Homo sapiens: one gene and its partner. The protein of the gene in region 1 interacts with the protein of each later gene in a biochemical or structural test. Each region holds a gene or a part of one and is shown on either strand. Other genes may lie near its edges.

What was found.
Region 2: the proteins of RANBP2 (region 1) and NR5A2 form a complex in vitro, tested with the Homo sapiens proteins (one study listed by BioGRID).

The regions. Positions count from the first base shown.
Region 1 is NC_000002.12:108,722,211-108,726,025, reverse strand, and holds part of RANBP2 (E3 SUMO-protein ligase RanBP2), read right to left. Parts: intron 1-3,815. UniProt on the Homo sapiens protein: E3 SUMO-protein ligase which facilitates SUMO1 and SUMO2 conjugation by UBE2I. Involved in transport factor (Ran-GTP, karyopherin)-mediated protein import via the F-G repeat-containing domain which acts as a docking site for substrates.
Region 2 is NC_000001.11:200,041,164-200,044,978, reverse strand, and holds part of NR5A2 (nuclear receptor subfamily 5 group A member 2), read right to left. Parts: exon of another isoform or gene 3,305-3,815; coding exon of another isoform or gene 3,133-3,304; intron 2,389-3,132; exon of another isoform or gene 1,981-2,388; intron 1,206-1,980; coding exon 1,087-1,205; intron 1-1,086. UniProt on the Homo sapiens protein: Orphan nuclear receptor that binds DNA as a monomer to the 5'-TCAAGGCCA-3' sequence and controls expression of target genes: regulates key biological processes, such as early embryonic development, cholesterol and bile acid synthesis pathways, as well as liver and pancreas morphogenesis.

The DNA of each region.
Region 1 (3,815 bases):
GTACCAGCAACGAACAATCAGAAAAGGAAATTAAGAAAGCAATTCCATTTACAATCGCATCTAAAAGAAAAAAATGCCTGGGAATAAATGTAAACAAGGAGGTGAGAGACTTGTATGCTTAAATTACAAAACGTTGCTCAATGCCAGGCTAACACCTGCAATCCCAGCACTGGCGACAGAGCAAGCCTCCGTCTCAAAAAAAAAAAGAACTACAGCAATCTTAACAAAAATAATACACAGCAGTCAGGACAGCACGTAAAGGAACAAGGCTTGTTCCCCCCTTCCTTTTTTTTTTTGAGATGGAGTCTTGCTCTGTCGCCAGGCTGCAGTGCAGTGGCTCGATCTCAGCTCACTGCAACCTCTGCCTCCCGGGTACAAGCTGGGACTACAGGCGCACGCCACCATGCCCAGCTAATTTTTGTATTTTTAGTAGAGATGGGGTTTCACCATGTTGGCCAAGATGGTCTCGATCTCTTGACCTTGTGATCTGACTTCCTCCACCTCCCAAAGTGCTGGGATTACAGGCGTCAGCCATTGAGCCCAGCCAGTTCCCCCTTTTCAAAATGAAGAAATAGATTCAAGGTACAATGCCAAAACATAATAGAAAAATAATTCCATTACCTTCTTTGCTTCCAACTATGTTATTAAAGTAGACAATCTTAAGATAATTAAACAACTTTACAAATTATTCTTCTATATGATCTTTTGCCTCTAACCTGCTCACTTTACAAGGGAACTGAAGCTCAAGCAGGTAAATGCCTTGTTTAAAGATACACAGCTAGGAAGGAGCACAGCCCATGTTATGTAAACAGGACAATATCTGATGCAAGCAGTACTTCTTTACATGACAGCAGATGTCACTATAAGCAAATACCTGAATTCACTTAAGCTGCCAAATATCAAGAACTGATGCAGGGCTGAAAACAGGAACAGTAAGACCCTAAGAGATGCCACATCATCTCTATCTTGCACAGTAAGATAGAGATGTAATTGTAATTGTCCAAAACTTAATATTTGTGGCCTACTTTTTCACTATGCAGTTCTAAATTTTTTTTTTAATTCAGATGGAGTCTCACTCTGTCGCCCATCTTGCACAGTCAAATGAATCTCCCTCCCCCTAAAATCCTCCAAAAACCCATCTGATCAGCTGTTCTCAACAAACCCATCTGATCAGCTCCAAATCTGTGGAGTCCCAACAAGGGTGAAGGCCGCGATTATACAGGACAATGAGGAAAAGTCTAGATACTGAACCATGAGTTCCCCAATCTTCTTCCCCTGGAACATAAGGGTAAGGAAATCTCTCAAAAGGCAGAACAAACAAAAGAGGAGAATAAGAGAAAAATTAGAGAAACTCCAGCTTTCAGGTAAACGTCATTAAAAAAAGGGTAAGAAATGGTCAAAGAAATAATACAAGAAATGCTACAGAACTGAAAGAAATGAGTTTCCCAATTGAAAGGACACTTCCAGAAAACCTTTAAGTTACCAAGAACAAGAATCTCATCGGACTCCTAACAACAGAACTTCTAGAAAATGGAGCAATGCTTTCAAAATTGCGAAAAAAAAATTATTTCAAACTCAGAATTCGATAACCAAATGATCAACTAAATTAAGTAAAGACATTTTAAAGACATACCATTAGTTTCAAGACCAGCCTGACCAACATGGTGAAATCCCATCTCTACTAAAAATAGAAAAAATTAGCCGGGCATGGTGGCACACACCTGTAATCCCACTACTCAGGAGGCTGAGGCAGGAGAATCGCTTGAACCCGGGAGGCGGAAGTTGCAGTGAGCTGAGACCATGCCACTGCACTCCAGCCTGGGCAACAGAGCAAGACTCTGTCCCAAAACAAAAACAAACAAACAAAAAAACCTCTCATCTACTTTTCCTCAAAGCAAGTGAGACTATGCTACACCAAAACAAAGAAAGTAAATGAAGAGGACATGAGATACAAGAAACAAAGGGTCTAACTCAGAAAAAAGATGAAAGGAATTCTCAAACTGATGATAAAGGGAAGTCCCAAGAGCACAGCTGTGTAGCAAAGAGGAAGAAAAACCAATCCTGGTTGGAGAAGTCAGTTAGTAAGGGTATTCCAGGTAGACAGACAATCAATCAATCAATCAATCAATCAATGTTTTAAGCTGCAATTGATGGGATTATGTGACCAGTTTGACCACATTTGAGGGTGTAAATTGCTGAGTTTAAGTAAGCAAGTAGTAACACAACATACAAGCAAACCAAAAAATAAAGCAATTATTCAGTCCAGGAAAAACAAAACCGCACAACAAGGGCAATTCAAATGCAAAAATATTTACCTTATATTTATATAAATGTTAAATATTCATTTAAACAAAAACTGCAATAACAGTACTGAAAGAATGAGGGGCAAACCAAAGTGTCTGAGGACAGTTTTGGAGGAGCATAATAACCAGTACAGAATGTCTAAAATGGGGCCCGGCGCGGTGGCTCACGCCTGTAACCCCGGCACTTTGGGAGGCTGAGGCGGGCGGATCATGAGGTCAGGAGATCGAGACTATCCTGGCTAACACGGTGAAACCCCGTCTCTACTAAAAATACTAAAAAATTAGCCGGGTGTGGTGGCGGGTGCCTGTAGTCCCAGCTACAGGCTGGGGCAGGAGAATGGTGTGAACCCGGGAGGCAGAGTTTGCAGTGAGCCGAGATCGCGCCACTGCACTCCAGCCTGGACGATAGAGCGAGTCTCCGTCTCAAAAAAAAAAAAAAGAAAAGAAAATGTCTAAAATGGGAGAAAGGAAATTAAAAATAACAAAAGTATATATGTGTGTTACTCAGAAGTATGAAGTATAGCTGTAAAGGGCAGAAAAAACAACTAACAGCTGTCAAAGGTGCCTGCCTGTAGTCCTAAGTACTCAGGAAACAGAGGTAGGTGGATCATTTACGCCCAAAAATTTGATGGCAGCCTGGGCAACACAGCAAGACCCTATTCTAAAAAACAAATAAATAAAAATAAGAGCTGTCAAGTAGACTTTGAGAAGTAGGAATCAGCTGCAGAATAAGAAATCAACTTGACAGAACATAGAAAAACTAAACAGAAGCCATCTGGAAAAAGAAAAACTAGAGAAAGAATTATATTTTTTTTTCTTTTTTTCTTTTTTGGAGACAGAGTCTCGCTCTGTCACACAGGCTGGAGTGCAGTGGTGCAATCTCTGCTCACCACAACCTCTGCCTCCAGGGTTCAAGCAATTCTCCTGTCTCAGCCTACCGAGTAGGTGGGACTACAGGCGCTGCCACCACGCCCGGCTCATTTTTGTATTTTTAATAGAGACGGATTTTCACCATATTGGTCAGGCTGGTCTCTCGGCCTCCCAAAGTGCTCAGATTACAGACGAAGAATATTTTTAAGGGCAAAAGCACATGTGAGGGAGTAGAAAAATGGCAAAACAAGAGAAGACTAACAAATGAAAGCACAATGAAAGACTAGAAAGATATGATATACAGACGCATCATCACACTCCAAAACTCCGACATTCTAGAAAGCATGGGCAGTTCACAGATGGCCAGCCTCTGCCAAACTGGGGGAGAATACTAACCTCTTCATATTCTTCACAGCCACTGCCTCTTCTCCCTCCATTCTTTACCTTCTATCCAAAGCACCCTGTTTTGTCATTTCACTCAAACCTAACTTTACAGAATAGCTTCACATGTTCCAAAGTTACTCACTAGTTAATCCATATTCCGCTGAAATCCCCAGGTTCTAATGTAAATGACTTTAAATTTGGGGGAAAAAAAAGACTCTAAGTGTAAGAGAGGTGTCATAATAACCAATCCTCAAAATT
Region 2 (3,815 bases), on another chromosome or scaffold:
CAAATGTCAACACTGGATAGTTAAAAGCAAAAGGATTTAAAGAGTAAAATGGGAAAATGCTCATAATTCCACTGGAATACATTCAAGTATGGGAACTGTTCTTAAAAAGGCAAAACTAATGGAAGGAAAAAGCATGTATCACAGATAGCTGAATTGTAGCACACAGGGTATGAGCTTTCCTTATATTTTATATAAAAGAATTAATCAAAAATAAAATGTGTAGCTTTATAATATGAGATTTACCAGGATAGTATTCATATTTAACCCACTTGCCACAAAGAGAAACATTCTTACTTTGTTATAGAGAATGGAGGGATTTTCCTGGTGGTGGTTTAAGTAATTGTACTGAGTTTTCCACTTAAAAACAAAAACAAACAAACAAAAAAAACTTTGAAAAATAGTGAATATTGAATTTACTGGGAATGTATTAAAAAGTCCTGAGATAAATTCTTAAAGTATAATTTATATTTTTGGTAACAATATAGCATATTTTACATATTAAAATCCATGCACTTAAATAGGTCATATATTTATAAAAATTATTATATTAAAAACTAAAATCTGATTTCTTGGTCTTTATGATATAAATTTCAAAAAATCCTTAAAATTATTTTGGAATAAATCAAGATGAAATCACACAGTTGGGAATTTAGGCTTTTATGTCTGTGGATAAAGAATGTTTAGACTTATAGCACAGAAATACTCTGAAGTTAAAATGTATTTGGGAAATAGTTTGTCATATTCCCTTTCAAGAACAACGATGCTTTAAATATATATAAGTCAAGCAAAATCAATATTTAGGACTGTTAGAAATGGAAGTCTTTCTACAGCTATATCACTTTACTACAATAAAGTATTTTAGAACCATGAGACTGGCAAAGTTTTCTAAACAGCATAAATTTCTTTGCCTTTTGAACTAAATCAGACACACACTTCTAAGAATCATCTCCCTAAGACTCTCTCTTTCTCCCTCATTTTTAGTTGAGTCTTTAAAAAAGGAGCCTAAATTTAGCTTAAAAGAAGTAATCCACTGGTTTATTTTGGTGTTGGACATTATATTTTTCAGGTAGCAATGTGTGAGCAAACCTTGCAGCTTTCACAGGTGAGGAGCCCATAATGGTACCCAGACACTTTATCTCCACACACGGGACAAAGCTCTTCCAGATCTTCATCATAGGAGTAATTCACCATTTTAAATTGAGACACTGAAACAAAAAGAGAAATGTATACACATATTCAATTAATTTACATGTAGGTGTTAATCCTGCAACAAAAAGCATTTTGGTGATTGCTGGGCAAATATCACATGGTAAAATATAAAATAAAAACAATTTTTAGCAAGGTCTTACTGAACTATTTTTACAAGTAAAACATCTTTTGTCATCAATAAGCATGGACCTCATATAATTCCATGTGCCACAAACAATTCCAACTTCTTTTGTTAACATTTTAAACTGACCGCTTTTAAACACAAGTCTCATAACTCCACAAAGCAACAAATAGAGACATGAATTGCATAAGGTGACAGTTTAGAATTTCTTTTAAATCCCTATGAAGTTAAATTCCAAAATGTCACCTTCGCCTAAGGTAGAGAAACAAGCGCAGGCTTTATTCCCTCCCTCTTGAAGTGGTTTGCTGCAAGTGCACCTTGCTTACAGGGACAGCAGCACCAATTTGCAAACTCTGTCCGACAGAGAAACTGAAGCCCCAGAAACCCGCTTCTCAGCAGCAGCCCACTTTAACTAAACAGCCTGAGGCTCCCAACTTTCAGATCTGTTAGATAATCGAAACATTCAGTTCCGTATTGACAGTACTTTTCTATTCTGGATACTTTCATCTCCTTACGTTTGAAAATCTGTGAAAATAAAAAGAAGGAAAAAGAAAATAGAGGACGCCCGTACGGGGAAAAATACCAGAAGAGTAAAAGACACACAGAAGGGTTTTGGTTTCAAAGTATTGAAGCCCTGTAATGAACCTCACATGTTTCCGATCATCATAGCAAAATATAAACACCTCGAGATCGCCCTATTAAAGTTAAACAGAAATCAGGCCGCCACGACGCGCGGCGCGGCTCACTGCCGGGATCGGGTAACCGCCTTGCTCCGGACGCAGACCCACGAAGGCGTCTTCGCAGCTAAAAAGATGACAAACTATGCACAGGAAGGGCAGTGACCAGGAGACCCCAGGAAGTGCCTGATCCGGTATTTCCCGGAGACTCCACATCCACACAGGTCAAGTATGGGAGCGCGGGGCGCGGGTGGGCGGGCACCCGCAGGTCTGCGCAGCCGGGACCCTGCCCGCACTCCCCCGGGCACTCTTCGGCGAAACCCGTGGGCGCACCAGGCTCTCGCCTAGGCTCTACCTCCTGCTACCCAACGGCGCACAAACACGCAGCCGAGTTTGTTTTAAGTTAATCAGTGGCGTTTGCAGGGGGTGGGGCAGGTGGGGGATGGAAAGCCACGGCCGGGCAGAAGTTTCCTCTGATTTGTTTACCAAAAAGGAAAGAGAAATAGCCCCCACCCCATCGCCAAAGTCCTCCGCCACAGTATCGCCGCAGTGATGACTTGTTCTTTTGAAAATAAAGTTATTTTTTTTCTCTTTGGTTCCCGAGCTCTTCGGTCGGAAAGGGCCGTCAGGGGGGTCACTTGCAGCACTTTGCGGCTAAGGACTGCGCGCAGACCCGCGGAGTTGACGCGTCTCTTCCCGGGCCACAGAGCCCTAGGATGGCTCACAGGGGAGTGAGTTAGCCAGAGTTTGGGAACATTCCGAGAAAAGAGGCTCCAGAGAAGGCAGGAGCCTGCCTTCGTGAAATATTAATAAAGGGATGCTAGGCGAGGTCCTCCCAGCGGTGCCAGCCTGAATCCCAGCCCCAAGAGACCCCCACTAGGGTTTTAGGAACCTGGGGGTTTGGGAAGGGCCGAGGGTTCAGAAATTCCTTTATAGCCCCTAGACGTTGATAGCTCTCCTAACAATCGCGATGACAGTCTTGAGGCATGTTTTAGGAACAAGGCGAAAAGCGCACTTTCCCAACTGTGATCTTTTCTACCTCCCCTTCCCCCAACAAAGTAAACTCTAACTTTACACCAAAGGGGCACAGATAGGCAACTGCTTTCAGAGGGACTCCGTGCCTACCTCGGGGACCCGACATCGAAGAAAGACCGAGGCATGAGGTAGAGACTCTCTTGAAAAAACCCAAAGACAGAGGCTGAGTAGGGAGACGCTGCTGTGTGAGGCCTGGGCACCTTTCAGAGTTTCCCAGATGCTCTGGTGCAGCCGAAGTAGGCGTTTGGGGAGGCGAACTCATCGGGGCAAAGAAGCGCCCACACTCTTCCCCAGTTTCGGTCTAGGGAAAGAAGAACGGACGGCGGTGCCTTGGAAAGCTAGGGCCTCAGAGAGGCGCACAAAGTTCCCTCAAAGTTGGGCGCGCTGCTCTGTCCCGGGACCATGTAGTGGATCGTCTTTCTGGGCTCCTACGGAGGCGTCCCAGGTGGGAACCAGAGCAAGCAGGAGAATGGGGTCCCCATCCCCCAGGGGCTCCTCCCGACAGGCAGGCCTCTAGTCTCCGACGAAGCCTTGCCCCGGCGCTTCCCATGCTGATTTCGAACCATGGGCTGAGTGAGTGGCGACTTCTGAGCCCAGGCACCAAAGAAAAACTACTTCTCTGGTTTGGGGGCACTAGGTAGTGTGTCCAGAAGACCCCTCTCGAACTTTCCAAAGAAAACGTTACCAATAACATTTCTCTCTCCGCTCTCAAAATAAGTCTTTGGCTTCTCGCGCCAGAACAAGAAGCAGAAACTTTCCTTTTGGAGCCAAGA